Linked DNA regions of Homo sapiens. The protein of the gene in region 3 interacts with the protein of the main gene of each other region in a pairwise test. Each region holds a gene or a part of one and is shown on either strand. Other genes may lie near its edges.

Region 1 (7,937 bases), on a different chromosome or scaffold from region 3:
AGATGAGGAAAGTCACCACACTGCACCTGAAAAAAAAGAACAAGGCATTTTTCCCTAGTCAAACTGAACTGCTCTAGGTAGAACCAAACTACTTTTTAAGTAACAAATATTTTATGTGTCTACCCATGAAACTCCCAGTTCATGAGTAGATACACCCAATTTTTTATATATGTGTAAAACTTGGAGTTTCATGGGTAGATACACAAAATATTGTGTATCTTTTATATATATATATATATATATAAATATATATATGCTGAAAAGTTTACTATTCGCCTGACACTAATTTTGTATAACTTATATACGTGACAGCACATGCAAGATACAAAACTAAATGCTAGAAAGCGGGAACTCCCAAACCTGACTATCAGAATCTCCTAGAAAACTTTTTAAAATAAAGGACTGACTAATGAACAGACCCTATCATCCATGAGATTAGGATTCTGTAACTCTGAGATTCAGGCCTTTCTTACTTCGGACTATTAGAAACAGTCCCTGTGATAACAATTCAGTGCATTTGGTTTCTTTGGGAGGTTACTTGTGAGATAAAGGAAAACTTCATAGGAGAGTGGGGATGCGAAACAGGGAAAGGAAGGCAGCCAGTAAGAGTGTGTTGTCAAGTTGAATGGCTCTAGGTATCTGTGTTTGATCCTGCTAGGGAAACTCTTAAAGCCAACATAAACACCCACCAGAGTGTTAACCCACCCAAAGGGTGGGGAAGCTGCCGTATGATTATCTCTGATGAGTTCTTTCTTGAAGCCTGCTTAGAAAAGTGGATGGGGGAAAAGAAAGAGCATTAATTCCAGGCATTTCAAATCTACTATGGGTGTCACAGAGAGAAAAGCCCTCAGGCAAAGTACAGATGTACAAAGTTAGAAGTCAGAAGTCAGTCTGTGTGCACTTAAAAGCAAGAGGACTGGGTAGGGCACTAACAGTATCTGCTGATGATGAGTTTTGCAAAAGCTTTTCGGGTGTTTCTGATGATCAGTCTGGTTTGGGAACCAGTGCTATGAAGGCTATAAAGATGAGTGGGTGACAGACCTTAGCCTCGGGAGCATAAAGTCTTGTAAGGTGAAGTTCTGTAAATAACCATTATTGAAAAAATGGAATACGTATCTTAAGAGAAGCGCTTATTGCAATGAATTTTAATACTTTGTAAACTCATCCATCTCTGTCACTAAAAAGTCCCAAGGAAAAGAACTATTCAATCTAATATACTGCCTGGAAAATGGCAAGTGTCCCACAGACACTTACTGCCTTGTTTTTTCAACTTCAATCTAATCAAAAATAAGGGTTATGCTTTAAATGTTTCATAGTTTGATTAAGCTGCAAATAAAAGAGTAAACAGGTGAACATTTCTTAAAAGCAAATTTAACACATAAGACCATTATATTAAATTCATGTCCAAAATATACATTCCAAATTCTGTACAACAAAATGTGGCCACAGAAAATAAAATGTATTCTATCACTAGGAAAACTGAAGACAAAGCTATTGACGGAAAATGTAATTTGTCTATAAATGATGGATACTGCAGTAATCAATTTATTTTAAATTAGTATACATGCAGTATCAATAAAGAGACCAAAAAAAAACCTTCAATGTCACAACACTATCAACTAGTCTAATGATTTTTACGTGTACAATCTTTTCTTATTATTTCTTATTTTTAAGACGCACTTAATTAAATAGTATCTGTAAATCTAAGAAAGGTCGGAAGGGAAAACCAGGGTATTGGGCAAAAACGTTTCCATCAGCATCATATATTAATTTGAGTTCCTTAAAAGGAGTGGATAAATGTCTTCCACAGACACTTTATTCTCCTAAAGATCCTTCTTTACTCTCTACTCCCTGGAAGATTCAGTTCGTTCTCACAAAATATTGCCATTGGGCACTTTTATCAACTACAACAGACAAAGAGGCATCAGGATAGAGGGGAGAGGATCTTTCACAAAGCTCTAATCTCAGCCACGCACGGTGGCCCACGCCTGTAATCCCAGCACTTTGGGAGGCCGAGGCAGGCGGATCACCTGAGGTCAGGAGTTCGAGACCAGCCTGGCCAACGTGGTGAAACCCCGTCTCTACTGAAAAATACAAAAATTAGCTGTGCGTGGTGGCGGGCGCCTGTAATCCCAGCTACTCGGGAGGCTGAGGCAGGAGAATCGCTTGAACCCGTGAGGCGGAGGTTGCAGTGAGCCGAGACCGCGCCATTGCATTCCAGCCTGGGCGACAACAGCTAAACTCCGTCTCAAAAAAAAAAAAAAAAAAAAAAAAAACTAATCTCAGGAACGTCCTAATACAATTTATTTGAGAATTAGAAACGATCTTTGGAGTAAATACATATTTACAACACTTTACTTGTAAATGACAATGACATCGAGAAATCTTAAGCCAGCTAGAAAGTAAATCACATGGTGTCATCTCCGCTCAAAATGCTCCAACGGCTTCTCGTCTTATTCTGAGACTGACTGGGTCTGCACTCCAACTCCATCCCAACACATACACCCATCTCCGATTACCCTTCCCGCTGGTTCACCACTATCGGCTACGCCGGCCTCCTGAGGTTCTTAGAACATGCCGTGCACATCCCTGCCCGGGAATTTTGCACTTGCTGTCCCCTCTTACCTGTTCCACTCTTTGCTCGGATTTCTGTATTTATGACTTTTCAATTTCCTTCAAGTCTCGGCTCAGATGCCACTTCTCAGTGGAGCTTTTCTTGTTTAAAAATACAAGCCAGCCTCCCACACCTCTTCCCCCTTCCCTGTGTTATTTTTCTCCATAGCACTTATCACCTTCCAATGCGGGCGGGAGAAGCACTGCTCCTCAGGGGGGCGCGAAACCCCGAGCCGGGGGGCCTCCCCTCTCCCACGCTCCCGGCCCCCGCAGACTCACCAGGTTCCGCAGCTGGGCCGCCTGCTCCTTGTGATAGTCCAGCCGTCCCAAGGAGCAGGGCCGATACTTGTCCACCCAGAGGCTCATGGCAGCTCGAGTTCCCGGGGGCCTACGCTTGAAAATCCCGCGCGAGCGCGCGTCCTCCCCACAACGCAGAGACAAGTTTTCCCGCGAGCTCCAAATCTCGTGACGTCACTACCGGTCGCGGCCGCGTAAATGATTTTGGACGGAAAGGCTACGGGGGCCGTGTGCAGACAAAATCAGCTGCCGCGTCGATGCCCTCTAGTTCTGAAGTTCACTGCTTTATTTATTTTCTCTTTGTTCGCACCGTCTATTATATTCTAGAAATTATCAAGCGGAATTGAAAATGTGGTTCTGACCCTTTTGGCGTCACATCCAGATACCTCAGAGAAGACCGTTCCTTTCATTTATTCATTCTTTCATTCACTTAATTCATTCAACAAAAATTTACTAAATATCTGCTAGGTGTGGAACTCTGTCCTCGGCACTAGAATATATACATCTCAGGGTTTCACTCACTTGGCAGGTACCCAGTAAAGCTTCATTGGATGAATCGCTTGAAAATGTCTGATCTTCACTATCCTTTGTTACCTCTATTCCTCAATATTCTTATTGGATTAGAAACAAAAGAATCAAGAGCATGGAAAAACTACCCAAATGTGGTCTGTAGGGGAGAAGACACGAGGTTAATATGCATTCTAAGTCTAGAATATTTGAAAGCCCTCCAATTAAAATGTGTAGAAGCATCTGAACCCCTCAGAAAAATATTCTGCATATGAAGTTGATATGCAACTTTTGAAGTTCTCTTCAAATAGTGCCTCTCAAAATGCACTTTACTCATTGTACATAATATTAATTCCTTATTTAATTTATGCTTTTATTTTATGTATTATTAAGAACCCTAAGTCCTGCCATTTGATTGCAAGGTCTTACAGGCAGGAAATGATTTCCAAATATACTTAATAACCTTTCACCAAGGTGCCTCTTACTCATTTATTAATCAATAATTTATCATGTTCTTCTATGAATCGTCATATTACATGAATTACTCCTGCAGGTAAGGTATTATCCACACCACCAAGTATAAGATTTAATCCCTGTTCTCGAGAAACTTTCTATAATAAGCCTGGAAGGCTTCTGCCTCAGGGCCTTTGCAATTACTGTTTCCTCTTCCTGGACTATGTTTCTCCAGTCAGCAGAGTTGGGTCCCTCATTTCCTTCAGGATGTTGGCTCAAGTATTATCTCCTCACTGAGGCTTCCCTGACCACCCTATTTAATATTGCAAAAAAGCTTCATCTTCTTTATGCTTCTCTCCTTTGGAATTGAAATGGAGGAAGTGTTTGAAATGAGAAGGTAAAGGAAATCAGAAGCAGGGATACTGAATTGTGGTCTATGTGTATATCATAATCATAATGAATGATAATGGAAATAAGTACTGAGAGGAATAAAGAGAAGAACCAAGTGCTAGAATGATCAATAATTTGGCAAGAGTGACCACAGGCATGACAGACAACTTCAATAAGGAGCAGTGGTTGATGGTCTCTACCGTGAAGACATGTCTCTACCATTGAAGCACATGAAGACATGTGCTTCAATATTGTTGGGGGTTCTGAGGAAGGAGAAATAGTGTGGTGACCCAGGAAGTCCAGTTAAATTTGAATTTCAGAAGCTTTTTCATATGTCTATGGCAAAATTTATTACAAATGATTTTTTTTCTCATATAAGTATGTCCCTGGCAATATTTGAAATTGTAATAAATATTGCCAGGGACATACTTATATGAGAAAAAAAATCAGCCTTTATCTGAAATTCAAATGTAACCAGGGCCCTGTATTTATCTAGCAATTTTACTCCAGACTCTTGAATATATAGGATATGAGAAATTGCTACAGAGGAAGTAAAGTCCTCGGGGTTGGTAAACTACAGCTGCAATCACTTTAATGTTTAATGACTCTGGCCCTCAGGTATCTTAGCTCTTTTTTTTTTTCTTGAGATGGAGTCCCAGTCTGTCTCCCAGGCTGGAGTGCAGTGATGCGATCTCGGCTCACTGCAACCTCCACCTCCTGGGTTCAAGCGATCCTCCCACCTCAGCCTCCCATGTAGCTAGGGTTACAGTTGTGCACCACCACGCCCAGCTAATTTTTTGTATTTTTAGTAGAGACAGGGTTTTACCATGTTGACCAGGCTGGTCTCGAACTCCTGAGCTCAGGCAAGCCAGCTGCCTCGGCCTCCCAAAGTGCTGGGATTACAGTAGCGAGCCACCACGCCCGGCAATCATATAGTAATTGTAAGTTTAATTTTTTGAGTAACTGCCATACCGTTTTCCACAGTGGCTGCACCACTTTACATTCCCATGAGCAATGCAAAAAGATTCCAATTTCTCCACATCTTCACCAACCAACAACCTTTTTAAATTTTAGTCATTCTGGCAGGTTTACAGAGAAATCTCATTATGATTTTAATTTCCCTAATGATAAATGATGTTGAGCATCTTATTAATTATTAGAATATTCTTTTGTAAAGTGACTATTCAAATATTTTGCCTATTTTTATTAGATTGTTTGTCTTTTTCTTATTAATTTCTTTCCTTTTCATGCATGTATTTTAAATAATCTTTTTCCTACATGTGGCTTGGCTTTAATCTCTGTTAATGGTGTCTTTTGATAAATAGTTCTTAAGTTAAATATAGTTCAGCTTGTACTGTTTTACAAAATCTTTACCTACTCCAAAGTCTTGAAGATGTTCTTCTGTGAGTTTTTCTTCAAGTTTTATGGTTTTGCTCTCACATTTAGATTTTAAATCCACTGGAATTTTTTTTTTGTATGCCTCCATACAAAAAAAAAAGTCTAAAAGGTCAAGGTACATTTTTTTCCATGTGGATATCCAGTTACACCAGCAGTGTTTATTAAAAAGACCTTTATTCACTGTACTGTAGGGTCACCTTGTCATAAATCATGTGACCTTGTATGTGTGGATTTGTTGCCGAACTCCCTGTTTTGTTCCATCAATCTATTTGTCTATCTATGCACAGGTACCAGACTGTCTTGATTACTATAGCCTTATAATAGGTCTTGGTTTCTGGTAGTTTGACTTCTATTCTTATTCAAGATTATCTTTGCCAGTTTTTGTCCTCTGCATTTTCATATAAATGTTAGAATCAGCTTGTTAATGTTGCAGAAATCTTGGCTGAGTTTCTGTTTGGTATGGCTAGTTACAGGGAGTTAAGTCCATGTCTGAACTTTGTGGATTTCACCTTGTTGATCTTCAAAATCATAAAACATAAATTGTTCCACTTGAGCATATTACAAACCACCTATTTTACTGATGCTTTTATATACGCAACTACAATTCTAAAACCAAAAAAAAAACACTTTACTTTCTGTATGATTTAACTGTGATATATATTTAACACATCTTCAATTACCCTTGCTACCTTCTTAAAAGGTAATATGTTAAAACTGAAAATACTCATTCATAGGCATTTAAAAGGAAATTTTATTTTAAGTGAAATGGCATGAAAAAACAATTAAAACTTTAAAAACACAAAATGTGATTAAATATCCTAGGGGTAAAAAGATAGGGTCTTTATTCCTTCGGGGCTTTGTTTCTCTCATCGCTGATGTTATTATCATCTTGATGTTTGAAATATGACTAATCTATGGCCTGTGAGAGACAAACCTTGAACACGGGAGATCCCACAGTGGAGCAAAGTGAGAGGATGACCCAGGCGACAAAGACAGAACAAGCTTGGAAAACCACCAGTCCAGGCAGAAGCAGGAGGATTACTGTCTTCAAGAAGATAAAATTAATACCTGATATGCTTGCACATACTGAGATGAGATTTACTCCTATAGAAAAGAGTTTAGTAATAAATTAGCAAGGTGTGTGTTAAACACTAAGTCAAAGACAAAACAAGACAATTACTAATAGCAGAGTACATAAAAGGTACAGAGTTGTTCCTCCGTGTTAATGAGGAATTGATTCCAGAACCTCTACAGATCACCAAATCCATGGATGTTCAAATTCCTTATATAAAATGATGTAGTATCTGCATATAGTCTACACACATCATCTTGTATACTTTAAATTATCTCTAAATTACTTACAATAAGTAATGTAAAGAAAATGCTATGTAAATAGTTGTTATTGTTTTTTATTTGTATTATTTATTGTTGGTTTGTTATTTTTTGTTGTTGTTTTCTGAATATTTTCAATCTATGTTCGGTTGAATCTGTGGATGTGGAACTGGGATATATGGAGGGCTAACTACATAAGGAATAGATAATACATGAGAAAGGAAATTTTATAGCATTAAAATATGCTCAACTGTGAATAATATTTACATAATCCAAATAATGTAAACATTATGGGCTGGGCATGGTGGCTTACATCTGTAATCCTAGCACTTTGGGAGGCCAGGAATTTGAGACCAGCCTGACCAACATGGTGCAACCCTGTCTCTACTAAAAACACAAAAATTAGCCAGGCAAGGTGCCGTATGCCTGTAATTCCAGCTACTCAGGAGGCAGAGGCAGGAGTATCACTTGAACCCGGTGTATCACTTGAACCCGGTGGAGGTTGCAGTGAGCCGAGATCATGCCACTGCACTCCAGCCTGGGTGACAGAGCAAGACTCGGTTTCAAAAAAAAAAAAAAAATTGTGTATTTCCCTATGAAGAAATTATAATATAAAAATAGGGGGAAATGAGAGGAAAGGAAGTGTGTACAGTTGTGAGAATGGAATTGTATGAGAGGTGAGACCTCATCTCCACAGAAGGAAATTGACAGCTAAACAAGCAAAATCAAGAAGTAGTAGTATTAGCATGTTATTAAGAAACATGGAATTGATGCCAGAATACACATGTGTGCATGCACACACGCACATACACACGCACACAAAAAGAGTTGAAAGTGTTTTCTGGGCCGGGTGCAGTGGCTCACGCCTGTAATTCCAGCACTTTGTGAGGCCGAGGCAGGTGGATCACCTGAGGTCAGGAGTTCAAGACCAGCCTGGCCAACATGGT
Region 2 (7,966 bases), on a different chromosome or scaffold from region 3:
TCCCAAAGTGCTGGGACTATAGGCCTGAGCCACCACACCTGGCCAAATCTTTTAAAATTTAACAGGTACTATTCACAATAGCAAAGACATAGAGTCAACCTAAATTCCCATTAATGGTAGACTGGATAAAGAAAACGTGGTACATATACACCATGGAATACTATGCATGCATAAAAAAGAACAAGATCATGTCCTTTGCAGGAACATAGATGCAACTGGAGGCCATTATCCTTAACAAACTAACCCAGGAACAGAAAACCAAATACAGCATGTTCTCACTTATAAGTGGAAGCTAAATAATGAAAACACATCAACAGAGAGAGGGAACAATGGACATGGGCCCTATTTGAGGGATGAGGGTGAGAAAAGGGAGAGGTTTAGAAAAAAAAAAACTTAGGTGCTGTGCTTCGTACCCAGGTGATGAAATAATCTGTACACCAAACCCCCAACTCACCAGTTTACCTATGTACCAAACTGGCACAGGTACCCCTGAACTAAAATAAAAGTTAAAAAATTTTTTTAATTTAATGGGTGACAAAACTTTGCCATACACTCACCAACAATGAACATTATCATTTGTAATTAAACCTTTTATTTTGAGATAATTGTAGATTCATGTGCAGTTGTAAGAAAACACAGGGGGCTGGGCACGGTGGCTCACGCCTGTAATCCCAATACTTTGGGAAGCCAGGGCGGGCGGATCACCCGAGGTCAGGAGTTCGAGACCAGCCTGACCAACATGGAGAAACCCCATCTCTACTAAAAATACAAAATTAGCTGGACACGGTGGCATGTGCCTGTAATCCCAGCTGCTCAGGAGGCTGAGGCATGAGAATTGCTTGAACTTGGGAGGAGGAGGTTGCAGTGAGCCAAGATTTTGCCATTGCATTCCAGCCTGGGCAACAAGAGCGAAACTCCGACAAAAAAAACAAAAAACAAAAAACAAAAAAACCTCAGCATGTTGGGAGGCTGAAGCAGGTGGATCATTTGAGGTCAGAGGTTCAAGACCAGCCTGGCCAACATGGCGAAAGCCCATCTCTACTAAAAATATAAATATTAGCCGGGTGGTAGCGACATGCACCTGTAATCCCAGCTACTCAGGAGGCTGAGGCAGGAGAATGGCTTGAGCCTGGGAGAGGTGGAGGTTGCTGTGAGCCTAGATAGCAGACCCTGTCTCAAAAAAAAAAAAAAAGAAAAAGAAAAAAGAAACAAAGAAAACACAGAGAAATCCCAATGCCCTTTGCTCGCTTTCTCCCAATGGTGACATCTTGCAAAACCATAATAAAACATCTCAACTAGGATACTGACAATGATAAAGCAAGATCCAGAACATTCCATCACCACAAAGTTTCCTCATGTTGCCCTTTTACAGCCACATTTACCTCTCTCTTGCTCCCGTCCCCTACCTAATACCTGGCAACCACTAATCTGTGGTTCATTTCTATAATTTGGTCATTTCAAGAATATTATAGAAATGAAATAATATACTATGTAATATATTGGAATTGGTTTTTGTCACTCAGCATAATTCTCTAAGGATTCATCCAGGTTGCTGCATTTATCAAAGTTTATTCCTTTTGCTGAGTATTATTTCATGGTATGGCTGTACCAATTTGTTTAACTGTTCATCCATTAAAAGAACCTGGCTGGGCGTGGTGGCTTACACCTGTAATCCCAGCACTTTGGAAGGCCAAGGCGGGAGGATCACTTGATGTCAGAAGTTCAAGACCAGTCTGGCCAACATGGTGAAACACCGTCTCTATTAAAAATACAAAAATTATCCGGGTGTGGGAGCGTGTGCCTGTAATCCCAGGTACTTGGGAGGCTAAGGTACGAGAATCACTTTGAACCTGGGAGACAGAGGTTGCAGTGAGCCGAGATCACACCATTGCACTCCAGCCTGGGCAACAGAGAGACACTCTTTCTCAAAAAAAAAAAAAAAGAAGCTGAAATAATAGGAAATTGGCTATATCAATTGCAATATATCCATAGGCTAGAACATTCTGCTGCTAGAGAGGTTGCATAAGGCCAGACTAAGGTGCTTAGACCTTCTCCTGAGACCAGCAGTCTCCAAAGTTTTGTTCATATGAACTTAACGGTACAAATATTAGCAAATATCTCATTAGCTGATATCTCAAAGCACGATATACAGTGAGGATGAGAGTCATCATTAATTAATGAGAGGGCATGTAAATTCACATTTCTTTTTTTTTCTTTTTTTTTTTTTTTTTTTGAGGCAGTCTTGTTCTGTCACCCAGGCTGGAGTGCGGTGGCGCAATCTTGGCTCAATGCAACATCCGCCTCCTGGGTTCAAACAATTCTTGTCCCTCAGCCTCCTGAGTAGCTGAGTTTACAGACGTGCACCATCACGCCCGGCTAATTTTTGTATTTTTAGTAGATACAGGGTTTCACTATGTTGGCCAGGCTGGTCTGGAACTCCTGACCCCAAGTGATCCACTCGCCCCGGCTTCCAAAGTGCTGGGATTACAGGTGTGAGTCACTGCGCCTGGTCCGTAAATTCATATTTCAAAGTGTCTTTTTCATTGTTTTCTCAAATTTTATTACATTCCTTACAACATGGCTGACAAAGACCAGCATTCATACCAGAAAGAGACCTGTCAGCTGTGTCCTTTTCTACTTGTTTGCTGTGCTGGTAATTTTCACAGTATCTGGAACTTGCCATTTCTTTGCAGGAATATTTTGAAGCCATTTTTCTGTTCTCGTAGGACAACCTAGTAACATGATCCTACGTTTAGTTAGACTGACACGACTCACTACACACTGCAATGCACTGCAGAATGCTGAAAGGGATGCGTGAGGACCCTGCTGCCCACCTCCCAGGCGTGGACCCTCGTTCCCTCAGGAAGTCTCTGCTTGACATCGGCCCTCATGACTCTCAGACAGAGGTCAGATGTACAGATCAAGTGAGACCAATACATTTACTATGTCATAGAAGACCTTAATTCTTATTTTTATTTTTTATTTTTTGAGACAAGAGTCTCCCTCCGTCGCCCAGGCCGGAGTGCAGTGGTGCGATCTCGGCTCACTGCAAGCTCGGCCTCCCGGGTTCACGCCATTCTCCTGCCTCAGCCTTGCGAGTAGCTGGGACTACAGGCTCCCGACACCACGCCCAGCTAATTTTTTTTTTTTTTTGTATTTTTAGTAGAGATGGGGTTTTACCCTGTTAGCCAGGATGGTCTCGATTTCCTGACCCCGTGATCCGCCCGCCTCGGCCTCCCAATGTGCTGGGATTACAGGCGTGAGCCACGCGCCCGGCCAGAAGAGTTTAATTCTTTTCTCATTTTTAGGTTAAAAAATGAGTAGAGGCCGGGCACGGTGGCTCACGCCAGTAATCCCAGCACTTTGGGAGGCAGAGGCTGGCGGATCACCTGAGGTCGGGAGTTCGAGATTAGCCTGACCAATATGGAGAAACCCCGTCTCTACTAAAAATACAAAATTAGCCAGGCGTGGTGGCTCATGCCTGTAATCCCAGCTACTCGGGAGGCTGAGGCAAGAGAATCGCTTGAATCCGGGAGGCAGAGGTTGGTGTGAGCCAAGATCATGCCATTGCACTCCAGCCTGGGCAACAAGCGCCAAACTCTATCTCAAAAAAAGAAAAAACAAAATTAGCCAGGTGTGGTGGTGCGTGCCTGTAATCCAAGCCACTCGGGAGGCTGAGGCAGGAGAATTGCTTGAACCCGGGAGGTGGAGGTTGCAGCGAGCCTAGATGGTGCCACTGCACTCCAGTGTGGGCGACAGAGTGAGACTCCATAAAAAAAAAAAAAAATTCAGGGGAAAAAAAGCAATTAAAAAAACATAACTATAAAAATAATACAAATTACAAAACAACCATTTGCATAGCATTTACATTATATTAGTTATAAGTAATCTAGAGATGATTAAAGTGTACGGAGGAATGTGCATAGGTTATATGCCAATACTGCCTCATTTTATATGAGGGACTTGAACATAGAAGGGTTTTGGAGTCCACAGAGGTCCTGAAACCAATTTCCCCTTCCCATGCCTGGGATGACTGAATTATACAGCAGCAAAAATGAATATACTCAAGCTATATGCATGAGTCTCATAAATATAATGCTCACAGAAAAAAGCAAGTTGCAGAAGGGTAAATACGGTTGATATATAAAGGTGCTAAACACAGAACTATTTAATGATATACGGATGCAGTAAAAGTATAAGAAATGTATGCAAACTTACTTAAATTCAGGGTGTTGGTTACTTGGAGTAAGGCGAATGTTTGGGATGTCAGTAGGTACCTGACAAATGGCAACTTAACTTTGTTTTGGTTTTTTTGAGATAGGGTCTTGCCCTTTCGCCCAGGCTCAAGTGCTGTGGTGGGATGATAGCTCACTGCAGCCTCGATCTCCAGGCTCAAAAGATCCTCCCTCCCGCCTCCGCGTCCCAAGTAGCTGGGACCACAAGCGCGCGCCACCACGCCCGGCTAATTTTTAATTTTTTTTTGTAGAGTTCAGGTCTCACTGTGTTGCCCAGGATGGTCTTGAACTCCTGGGCTCAAGCGATCCTCCCGCCTTGGCCTCCCAAAGTGCTGGGATTACAGGTGTGAGCCACCGCGCCTGGCCTGCAACTTTACTTATAATAATCTGTGTGGCAGATGTCATTTGGCCCATTTTACAGATGAGGAAATTGAGGCACAGGGAAGTGAACTGGCGGAATTTCAGTTCCGCTGGGTTTTGACACTGAATCAACTGGCTGAACCAGCGAGAGGACGGCCCGGCTGGCTCTCAGGCCTCTCCCGGCGCTCCCTTCCGGACCGGTGAGTGAGACTCCTGGGGCCACGCCTTGTGAAATTCTGAGGCTTCTTTTCAGGGATCGAAATCCCCTCCGGCTCCGCCCTGCGCGTTGGGCCCCGCCCCAGCGGGTCATGAATATGCAAGTGCGAGGAAGATATTTAAAGGCGTCGGCGCCACGCGCATATCCCTGCTCGGCGCTGCCCGCCCAGTTCCTGTTCCCAGACTGAGGCCCAGCCCCCTTCGCCCGTTTCCATCACGAGTGCCGCCAGCATGTCTGACAAACTGCCCTACAAAGTCGGTGAGTCCCAGGACCTGCAGCCGGTTGCGGCCGCCCGGCACCCGCCCGGGGCTTGTTCGTGGCGGGGGCTGCAGGGCCGACTCGGGGCTCTCTGGACCCCCTGGAATCGCAGCCTCGGCGCGTTTCTGGCCGCGCGAAGCCAGCTGGAAGTTGGAGTTCTCGCGCGGCCATGAGCGGGCCGTTCCGGGTGGCCGTGGACTACAAGTCCCAGCATGCCCCGCGACGCCGGGGCCGCCGCGCGGTCTGCGAGCCGCAAACTGGCGGCGTGCTCCGCGGGAGAGCACACCTGGCCACGGCCTGGGACGGCTGGCACCTGCCGGACCCTGCTCGGGGGGCCTGCGCCCGGCCTCCTAGGCCTGGACCGGACCCTGTCCAGCTGGGCGGCCCCGACGAGCGTCCACCCCTCTCTGGGCCTCCTACAGGGACGGCGAGGGCACCCCGGAGGGTGTATGAGGAGAGGCCTGGAAAGCGAGCCCCAGGCCGGCTCCGATCCTCCTCTCCCCTGGGACTTTGGGCCAGTTACCCAACCTGTGGGGTCCCCCACCCCTCCAGCAGGGGCAGCCTTGCAGAAATCTCGAAGAAAATTTGGAGTGGTTTGAAAAATCCTGCTGTCCCACCGATTGAAGTGTAATACAGGGATAGTTAACGTTTACTTAGTGTTTCCTGTGGGATCGGCACTGCCTTCTAGCTTTATTCTAGTCTCATGGCTCTATAGGGAAACTGTTCTCATTTTATGATGAGAATCCTGAGGCAGAGGTAACTTGCCCTCAGTCTTACAGCTGGTGGTGATGGAGCAAGATTGGAACGCAGGCCATCTAGATCTCTGAGCGCACCCTTTCACCACTGTGTGCAAGCGAATACACGCGGAACAATCCTAGTGAATTTTCAGCAAAAACCAGTTCAGTTTGGCTGGTAGCTTTTCAAGTAACTTTGACACTATTGGACCGGGTGTGGTGGCTCACCCCTGTAGTCCCAGCACTTTGAGAGGCCGAGGTGGGCGAATCACTTGAGGTCAAGAGTTCGAGACCAGCCTGGCCAACGTGGTGAAACGCTATCTCTACCAAAAATACAAAAACTAGCTGGGCGTGGTGGCGGGCGCCTTCATTCCCAGCTACTCGGGAGGCTGAGGCAGGAGGACTGTTTGAGCCGGGGAGACGGAGGTTGCAGTGAGCCGAGATTGCACCACCACGCTCCAACCTGGGCAACAGAGCAAGACCCTGTCTCAAAAAAAAAAAACAAACAAAAAAAGACACTATTAAGTCTGGAGAATGCCATCCACATTTATGGAAACACTTGCTGTATATCTGGTGATTTACGTGTGTTTACACAATAATCTTCATAGAGGTGGACGTAATCCCGTTATATAGAGCATGAAACTGAGGCCCTTGGGAGGTGACTTGCAAAGATTCTGTTGAAGTAGTTCATCAAGTTGCTACCAGAGTAGACTGTCTCCATTGTGTGGATGCTGAAACTGAACCCAGAAAGGTTATGTGAAGGTCACATCAATAGTAGAGCTGGAATGGGGGCTTGTCATACTGTGGAGAGATTAGTGGGTCAGGATTGGGGCCATTGGGTTGTGTGGGTGGAGATAAAGCTGGATTTGGGGATGGGGAGCTTAGCTGGGTGGGGCTGGAGGAAGGAGGCCCTGCTGTATGCCAGATCTTGATCATATGGCATTATCTTTACTTAAGGCGCATAGCAAGCTAGGGATGATTATCCACACTTTACAGATGAAGAAACTGATGTTTACAGGGGCTCTTGCTGTTCCTCTTGGCTTGTCCTGGGGACAGGTGTTCCTGTGACTTTTGCAAGTCCTTAGCTCCAGAGATTGCAGCATCTAGCCTCTCCTGTGCCTTTGGAGTTGAGGGTCCCAGGGAAAACTGTGGGGCTGGCACAGTGTCCTCGAGGGCACTGAAGGAGTTATTTTTAGCTGGAGGGACATGTGGTGGTGGAGGGGTGGAGCTTAGCAGCACAGGGCATAACCCATTGTCCCATACAGCCGGGCCCCTCCCAGGAGGGGCCTTGAGAGGGGCCTCTGCTCTAGCCCTGCCTGGCTGCCAGTTCTGGTTCTGCGGTTAATTGGCTATGGAACCTGCAGCAAACTCCTCTCTGGGTCCTCTCTGGGTCATTAGTAAATGCTGGGACTCAGACTAGGTTCAGATTTGTGTTGTTTTTCTTTGCCACCCTTGTCACGTGCCAGCCCCTCTCATGGATCTTTCATTCAGTTCTGAGGACAGATATGGTCGGTAAACAGTTGCTGACCCCTTCTCTGAGCCAGGTCATGCTGGAGACACAAAGGTGACCCAGAGACAGGGGTGGCACAGACATGCATACAGATAAAGTAGTATTGTCTCCATTTTATGTGAGCAGATCTGCCACTTGTCTGTCTCCACGGTCACCACCCCAGTCTGGTCTCTCTCCTTGCAGGTCTCCCTGGATCTCTTGCTCCGCAGATCCACACAGCAGCCAATGGGGTCTTTTCAAAAGACAAATCTGGTCTCTGAATGCTGGCCCCTGAAAACTGTAGGTTCCCCACTTCACTGGGACTGAAGTCCCAACTCATCTTATGCCTCTATTTGAGTCACCCTGGTGCACTCTTGGTTCCTCTAGCAGGGATATACTAGGTTCTTTCCTGTTTCCAGGTTTTTTTCAGCACCTACTGTGTGCCAGGTACTGTATTAGGTGCTTGAGAGGAGCCTTCCAGGCCGAGAACTGCTTGGGTTAAAGCCCTGAGGTGGAAATGAGTGGAGCTTGCCTGAAGTCAGTCAGGAAGCCTGTGTGTTGAACAGCTAGTGAGTGGGGAAAGTGGAGAGATGGAGGAGGGGCAGGCAGTCATGCAGATAGGGCCCGAAGATTGAGGGAAGCCATTGGAGGGTTTGCTTGTTTAGTTTTGTTT
Region 3 (7,831 bases):
CTCTCTCCTGCCACCCTGTGAAGGAGGCGCTTGCTTCGCCTTCCCATAATTGTAAGTTTCCTGAGGCCTCCCCAGCCATGTGGAACTGTGAGCCAATTAAACCTCTTTACTTTATAAATTACCCAGTCTCCGGTAGTTCTTTTTTCTTTTTTTTTTTTTTAAACAAAGTCTTGCTCTGTCGCCCAGGCTGGAGTGCAGTGGCACAATCTAGGCTCACTACAGCCCCTTCCTCCCAGGTTCAAGTGATTCTTGTGCCTCAGCCTCCCGAGTAGCTGGGATTATGGGCTTGCGCCATCACACCCACCTAATTTTTGTATTTTTTAGTAGAGACAGGGTTTCTCCATGTTGGCCAGGCTGGTCTCCAACTCCTGGCCTCAAGTGATCATCCACCTGTCTTTGGCCTCCCAAAGTGCTGGGATTATAGGCATGAGCCACTGTGCCCAGCCTTAGGTAGTTCCTGATAGCAGTGTGAAAATAGACTAATATACCTACCAAACATCATAACTTAGCCTAGCCTTAAATGTGCTGAGAATACTTTAATTAGCCTACAGTTGGGTAAAATCATCTAACACAAAGCCTATTTTATAATAAAGTGTTGAATATCTCACGTAATTTATTAAATACTGTACTGAAAATGAGAAACAGAATAGTTGTTTGGTTACACAAAGTAAGGTTTCTACTTATTTTTGCACTTTTGTGTATCACTTTTGCACTGTTGTAAAGTAAAAGAATCCTAACTGCAACCATCATAAGTTGGGAACCATCTGTATTCTTCAGTCTTTGGCTGTCTTCTTTTTAAAAATTATTTATTTACTTACTTATTTTAAGACAGGGTCTTACTGTCAGGGTTTCACTGTGTTGTCCAGGCTAGTCTGGAACTCCTGGGCTCAAGGGAATCCTCCTGTCTCAGCATCCTGAGTAGCTGGGATTAACAGGAACAAACCACCATTCCTGGCTGTCTTCAGCAGTCTTTTTTTTTTTTTTTTTTTTTGAGACAGAGTCTTACTCTGTTGCCTAGGCTGGAGTGCAGTGGCATGATTTCGCCTCACTGCAACCTCCACCTCCCAGGTTCAAGTGATTCCCCTGCCTCAGCCTCCTGAGTAGCTGGGAATACAGGTGCGCTCCACCACACCCGGCTACTTTTTGTATTTTTAGTAGAGACAGGGTTTCGCTCTGTTGGCCAGGCTGGTCTGGAACTCTGACCTCAGGTGATCCACCCTCCTCCGCCTCCCAAAATGCTGGCATTACAGGCATGAGCCACCGCGCCTGGCAGGAGTCTTCTCTCAGCACTCACAGACTCCCTTGGGGCTATCTCTTCTATTCCCATGACTTCAGCTAGCACCCTTTGCTGACTGCCAAAATACAAATCACCAGCCCAGATCTCCTTCCTAAATGCAATACCCATTCACATAACTGTTTACTGAACATATCCATTTAAATGAAAATCAGAAAAGAAAGCACAGGCTCAGAAGTTGAACTTGAGTTCAAAGCCTTGCTCCATCACAAACTACGATGTATAGCATTGGGCAAGTTTGTTTATTTATTTATTTATTTATTTTTGAGACAGAGTCTCACTCTGTTGCCCAGGCTGGAGTGCAATGGCGAGATCTTGACTCACTGCAACCTCTGCCTCCAGCACCTGCCGCCACGCCCATCTAATTTTTGTATTTTTAGTAGAGACGGGGTTTCGCCATGTTGGCTACGCTGGTCTCAAACTCCTGACCTCAGGTGATCTGCCCGCCTCAGCCTCCCAAAGTGCTGTGATTACAGGCATGAGCCACCGTGCCTGGCCAGCACTGGGGCAAGTTAATTACCTCCCTGAGCCTCAGATAATAATGATGGTCCTGTTTTACAGAGGAGTTGTTGTGAGGATTAAATGAGATAATCCATGTACAGCACTTCCTGCAGCACCTGGCAATGAGTTGATAGTAGCAGATAGTAAAGAGTAGTAGTAATTAAAAGGTCTCAGAAAGTTCAAGTCAACAGATTCAAAAGTGAATTCATGACCAAACCTCAAACCTTCTCTTCATCCTTTGTCCCAAATCTCAATAAATCACACCACCATCTAATCATCCAGAAACCCGAACATTATCCTTGTTTCTTGACCACCACTGCCCTCCCATTCTGCCAGGTTAAGTTTTCCTAACGTAAACCTTGTTGTAACCCACCTATGATCCAATGAATGTTTAAGATGTCTAGGCTTTGCACATATCCATTCATTCAATCCATAGAACAATCCTGCAAGGTGGGTGCTACTATTATTCCTGTTTCGCAGGTGCAGAATTTGAGGCACAGGAAAGTTGAGTAACTCATTCAAGATTATATGAGTGGCAAAGCTGGCATACAAACCCAGGCAGTCTGGCGTCTGTCTCCACACTCACTACCACTATGCCACATTGTTTCTATTGTAATGCATAGCACATTCTATTGTTCGCCTTGTCTCCCCTGATAAACTGTTCTTCAAAGTCAAGGACTCTGATTCATTTGCAGCAGCATCCTCAGTGACTAGAACAGTGCCTGGCAAACAGCACATGCTTAATACAGTTCAGTGAGTTAGGTAGTTCCCTAGAGACAAGACAGAGTAGAGATAAATGGAAGTAGTAATAGAACAGCCAGCAGGTTACATTCAGTTATATCCAAGATCAGAAGTTTTGTTTGTGGATAAAATTTTGTTTTTTTTAATCTGAAGATAATAAACAGAAGACTGAAATCAGAGTAAGTAGAGGTTGAGTTTAAGAAGATCTACTAATATTCACGGATACAGCAGTTATGTAGGGTACATGCTATAATCCTTTTAAGGAAGGGACATTTGACAAACTCTCATAAAGAGAACTCATAGACTTTGGGGGCCGGGCGCGGTGGCTCATGCCTGTAATTCCAGCACTTTGGGAAGCTGAGGCGGGCGGATCACCTGAGGTCGGGAGTTTGAGACCAGCCTGAGCAACATGGAGAAACTCCGTCTCTACTAAAAATACAAAAAATTAGCCAGGCATGGTGGAACATGCCTGTAATCCCAGCTACTCAGGAGGCTGAGGCAGGAGAATCGCTTGAACCTGGGAGGTGGAGATTGTGGTGAGCCGAGATCGCGCTGTTGCACTCCAGCCTGGGCAATGAGAGCGAAACTCCTCCATCTCAAAAAAAAAAAAAAAAAAAAAAGAACTCATAGACTTTGGGGTGCAGTCACGAACAATTTTTTTTAACTGCATTAAAAACAAAAAACAACAACAACAAAAAAACAAAAACAGGCCAGGCGCGGTGGCTCATGCTTGTAATTCCAGCACTTTGGGAGGCTGAGGCTGGCAGATCACATGAGGTCAGGAGCTGGAGACCAGACTGGCCAACATGGTGAAACCCCATGTCTACTAAAAATACAAAAATTAGCCGAGCATGGTGGCACAGGCCTGTAATCCCAGCTGCTCGGGAGGCTGAGGCAGGAGAATTGCCTGAACCTGGACTTAGAGGTTGCAAGGAGCTCAGAGATCGCCCCACCGAACACCAGCCTGGGCAACAGAGTGAGACTCTGTCTCAAAAACAAGCAAACAAAAACAACAAGCCACTACCTACTCCCATGTCACTGAAATTGTGTTGAAGGACTCAAATCCAGTGCCATACACATCAGTTTCAGATAGAGTATCATGCTGGATGTGAGAATTAAAATTTAAATTGGGGGAACAAATGAAAATGTAAGCTCAAGCAGGGTTACAATTTGCCATGGGGGTCAATTTAAGTGTGTAGTCAGTTTATATTCAGCACCACCTGGTGTGCACTGTGTACTGTGTGAATTACTGTATCATACTAAACAAACAGACATTGGTTTTTCTTAAACTGTAGCAAGAAAAATGCTTGCTGTGCAGATCCCAGCAGCCCCAAGAGACGGAAATGAAAACTCCATGCCTAAATTTATCCCTTCCTATTTCATCTCTCCTTGTTCAGGCCTTCCTCCCTTCCTCCCCAGGGCTATTTCCTTAATCTTGACCCCATCTGTAAAGTTCCATCCTGTGCCACATCGGAGGATCTCTTCAGGGCACCTGGGCTCAACAAAACAATATTTCCTTTTTCTCCCACTGGGTATAAAACAGTGCCAACTGAGGCTCTGAGCCTCATTAGATAGATCGGGCAAGAAGTGAAGCAAAATGCTGTTTACATGTACACCACAGCTCTTCCCAGAGCACTTGGAATCAGGACCAGGACACCTCCAAAGCCTCTTTGGTGTTTTTCCTTTCTTTTCTCCTTATATGGCCTTCATGAAGAGTAACTAATTACAATCTGTAAGCAGTAATTACAGTTCATAAACTGTGAGCACAATATAAATATTTTTCCTGAAAGCCAGGTTAGAAGAAATCCTGTCTAAAATGAGATGTAAAACAACAACAATTGAAATAAATATTCTAACTGAATTGTCCCCAAGCACTGTCAAAAAGAAGAAGAGTCTAATCTATCTCTGTAATAATGGGCGTATTATAGTAGGATCGTTTTCAGCCCATTTCCCCATCCTGCTGGGCACGAATTGGCTCAGATAAGGAAAAGGAGCCAACCAAACTGGGGGAAAATAACAAAAAAACCCCAAATCCCAATAAAAAGAACCCACCAATTATTTTGGATGCCTGGTAAACAGCCTGCACCAGAGGATAAGGCTTTTCTGGCCCTCAGCTATGCTTTTTTCTCTTTTCATGTGTCTTGTCCTCCTCCCTTGAAACTGCGGGGTGGGGAAGTCTAAAAATAGTCAATGAATCATGGCATATAATATTGTGCAGTAGTTACATAAACAGCCAGCCCGGGCGCCGGAGCCCCGGGTCGGAACGGAAAATATCTGGGTCAGCGTTGTCACACTGAACAGGGTCCCCCGGAGCCGGCCTTCGGGAGGCGCGGCCCGGGAGGAGGCCTGGGCCTGCGGGCCGGGAGCAGCAGGGGCGGCCCGCGGGAGGGAGCGGAAGTCCCGGGGCGGGCGCGGGCAGCGGCGCGAGCAGGGCGGGCGAGTTCCGCGCTCCCTCCCCATGGCCGGGAGCGGGCCGCGGCGACGGCGGCGGCGCTGACAGGCCCCGGGCGGGGCGGGGCAGGCGGGCCTGGGCGGGGGCCTGGGGCTGTGGGAAGATGAACGCCCTCCTAGAGCAGAAGGAGCAGCAGGAGAGGCTGCGGGAGGCCGCGGCCTTAGGGGACATTCGGGAGGTGCAGAAACTGGTGGAGAGCGGGGTGGATGTGAACTCCCAAAATGAGGTCAACGGCTGGTAAGTGGGGAGCGGGGGAGGCCTAGGGTCAGGGCAGCCGGTCGGAAGGCGTGGGGCAGTCAGTCGCGACCTGGGCCCAGCGCGGGACGCCTGGCTACGGCGAGGCCTGCCACCTCGGGCCTCCGAGATTGTGCTCTCTTGAGGCCAGCCCTGGCCCCCATGCCTCGTGCGGTCGGGAGCGCGTCCTGCCCAAATCCCGGCCCACGTGGTCCACTCGGGGCAGCGCCCACTGGGACTCTGGTGCCCTACCCCCTTCCCCCGCGCTCCCGGCTCACTTGGTCAGAGCGGTGCTGGAGGCAGTGATTCTCAGCGACTATGCGTTGGAGCTCACCCCAATTCGAGTGTTGAGTTAATTTGCCGTAGGTGCTTCTGGAGAACGCATCTTGCAGAGCTAAAAGCATAAGCAACTGAGCAAATATGAATTTTATAAACTAGCACGATTTCCTTAGCCAAGACCAGGAAAAAAAAACACATTTGCATCACCATTCTGCTTCTCTGTTGTTTCACTGCAACCGATTTGCTGCTGCTGCCTGTAGTTGCCTGTTTGAGGGAAAACTCATTTGTTTATCCTATCGATTATTTTCTTTCTTTTTTTTTTTTTTTTTTTTTTTTTTTTTGAGACAGGGTCTTGCCCTGTCGCCCAGGGTGGAGTGCAGTGGCATAGTCTCGGCTCACTGCAACTTCTACCTCCCCGGCTCAGGTGATCCTCCTGCCACAGCCTCCCAAATAGCTGGGAATACAGGCACGCGCCCCCACACCCGGCTAATTTTTTTTTTTTTTTTTTTTGGTATTTTTGGTAGAGATGGGGCCAGGTTGGTCTCAAACTCCTGGCCTCAAGTGATCCACCCGCCTCAGCCTCCAAAAGTGCTGGGATTACAGATGTGAGCCTACCGTTCCTGGCCAGTTTTCTTATTACAATTTCAAATACAGAATGTCACCCAAGACTTTAGATGTCTGCCTGCAGATTGAATTCTTCCCAATTAAATAAGGAGTCTCATCTTAAGATGTTGCTGGTGGTCAAAACAGAAAGTTACTGAATGTGGCATTATTCCGCTCTCTGCATTTAAAATTTAAAATTTTGATTCAGGTAATGCTTAGCCAGACTATTTTGCTAGCTTAGAGTTAAAGTGAGTAGCACTTTGGGAGGCTGAGGTGGGCGGATCACGAGGTCAGGAGATCAAGACCATCCTGGCCAACATGATGAAACCCCGTCTCTACTAAAAATACAAAAATTAGCTGGGCGTGGTGGTGCATGCCTGTAGTCTCAGCTACTTGGGAGGCTGAGGCAGGAGAATCACTTGAACCTGGGAGGCGGAGGTTGCAGTAAGCCAAGATTGCACCACTGCACTCCAGCCTGGGCGACAGAGCAAGACTCTACCTCAAAAAAAAAAAAAAGTGAGTTTACATTTTGTTTTTTTAAGTGGAATCATCCATTTTGGAACTGAAAGGGACAATGGAGAGAGGCTCAACCACAGAGAATAACTTGCCCTAGGCCACATAACTATTAATATGATAGCACCAGAACCATGGTTTCCAGACTGCCTCAAAAGTCTACCTACCTGGACCTGGCGCGGTGGCTGACGCCTGTAATCTCAGCACTTTGGGAGGCCAAGGTGGGCAGATCACGATGTCAGGAGTTCGAGACCATTCTGGCCAACATGGTGAAACCCTGTCTCTACTAAAGATACAAAAATTAGCCAGGGGTAGCGGTGTGTGCCTGTCATCCCAGCTACTTGGGATGCTGCAGCAGGAGAATCACTTGAACCAGGGAGTTGGAGGTTGAAATGAGCCAAGATCACACCACTGCACTCCAGGCTGGTGGCAGAGCGAGACTCTGTCTCAAAAAAAAAAAAAAAAAAAGTCTATCTTCCTGGTAGGACCTGGTGGCTCACGCCTGTAATCCCAGCACTTTGGGAGGCCAAGGCAGGAGGATCACTGGAGTCCAGAAGTTTGAGACCAGCCTGGGCAACATAGTGAGATCCCAGTCTCAAAAAAAAATTTTTTTCTACCTAATTTCCCTAAAGAAAACAGCCTGGACAGCTGTCCAGAAGGCCAGGAAACAGTGGATACTACCTTTTTGTTCTGTTTTTTTTTTTTTTTACAGGTCTTTGCAAACTTGCTGTTGTGTATGTAACCTTTTCTCAGCATTCCTCTGGTTCAAAGCTGTGAATTACCATTTTGGCACTGGGAGGCGGTGTTGTGTAGAAGGAGCCTGGTCTTTCCTGCAGGTTCTCCTCCATTCCTGCCTAGCTATGGGACTTTGCCTGAGATGCTTCATTTTCTACTTGTTCCAGAAGAGTATTGTGAGCCCTTAATGAGATGAAGCATAAATAGCTAACATTTATTGAACTTGCTTTGCAGCACAGATAGGATAGGGTTCTTTTTTTTTTTTTTTTTTTTGAGACAGAGTCTCGCACTCTCGCCCAGGCTGGAGTGCAGTGGTGCCAGGTGCCATCTTGGCTCACTTCAAGCTCTGCCTCCTGGGTTCACGCCATTCTCCTGCCTCAGCCTCCCGAGTAGCTGGGACTACAGGTGCCCGCCACCACGCCCGGCTAATTTTTTGTATTTTTAGTAGAGATGGGGTTTCACCGTGTTAGCCAGGATGG

What was found.
Region 1: the proteins of ANKRD40 (region 3) and RFC3 interact in binary tests that used the Homo sapiens proteins (3 or more experiments, as listed by UniProt).
Region 2: the proteins of ANKRD40 (region 3) and AHCY interact in binary tests that used the Homo sapiens proteins (3 or more experiments, as listed by UniProt).

The regions. Positions count from the first base shown.
Region 1 is NC_000013.11:33,813,221-33,821,157, reverse strand, and holds the start of RFC3 (replication factor C subunit 3), read right to left. Parts: upstream 3,010-7,937; 5' UTR 2,980-3,009; coding exon 2,893-2,979; intron 27-2,892; coding exon 1-26. UniProt on the Homo sapiens protein: Subunit of the replication factor C (RFC) complex which acts during elongation of primed DNA templates by DNA polymerases delta and epsilon, and is necessary for ATP-dependent loading of proliferating cell nuclear antigen (PCNA) onto primed DNA.
Region 2 is NC_000020.11:34,300,347-34,308,312, reverse strand, and holds the start of AHCY (adenosylhomocysteinase), read left to right. Parts: upstream 1-4,957; 5' UTR 4,958-5,042; coding exon 5,043-5,070; intron 5,071-5,322; exon of another isoform or gene 5,323-6,532; coding exon of another isoform or gene 6,533-6,566; intron 6,567-7,966. UniProt on the Homo sapiens protein: Catalyzes the hydrolysis of S-adenosyl-L-homocysteine to form adenosine and homocysteine. Binds copper ions.
Region 3 is NC_000017.11:50,704,915-50,712,745, reverse strand, and holds the start of ANKRD40 (ankyrin repeat domain-containing protein 40), read left to right. Parts: upstream 1-4,831; 5' UTR 4,832-5,091; coding exon 5,092-5,225; intron 5,226-7,831.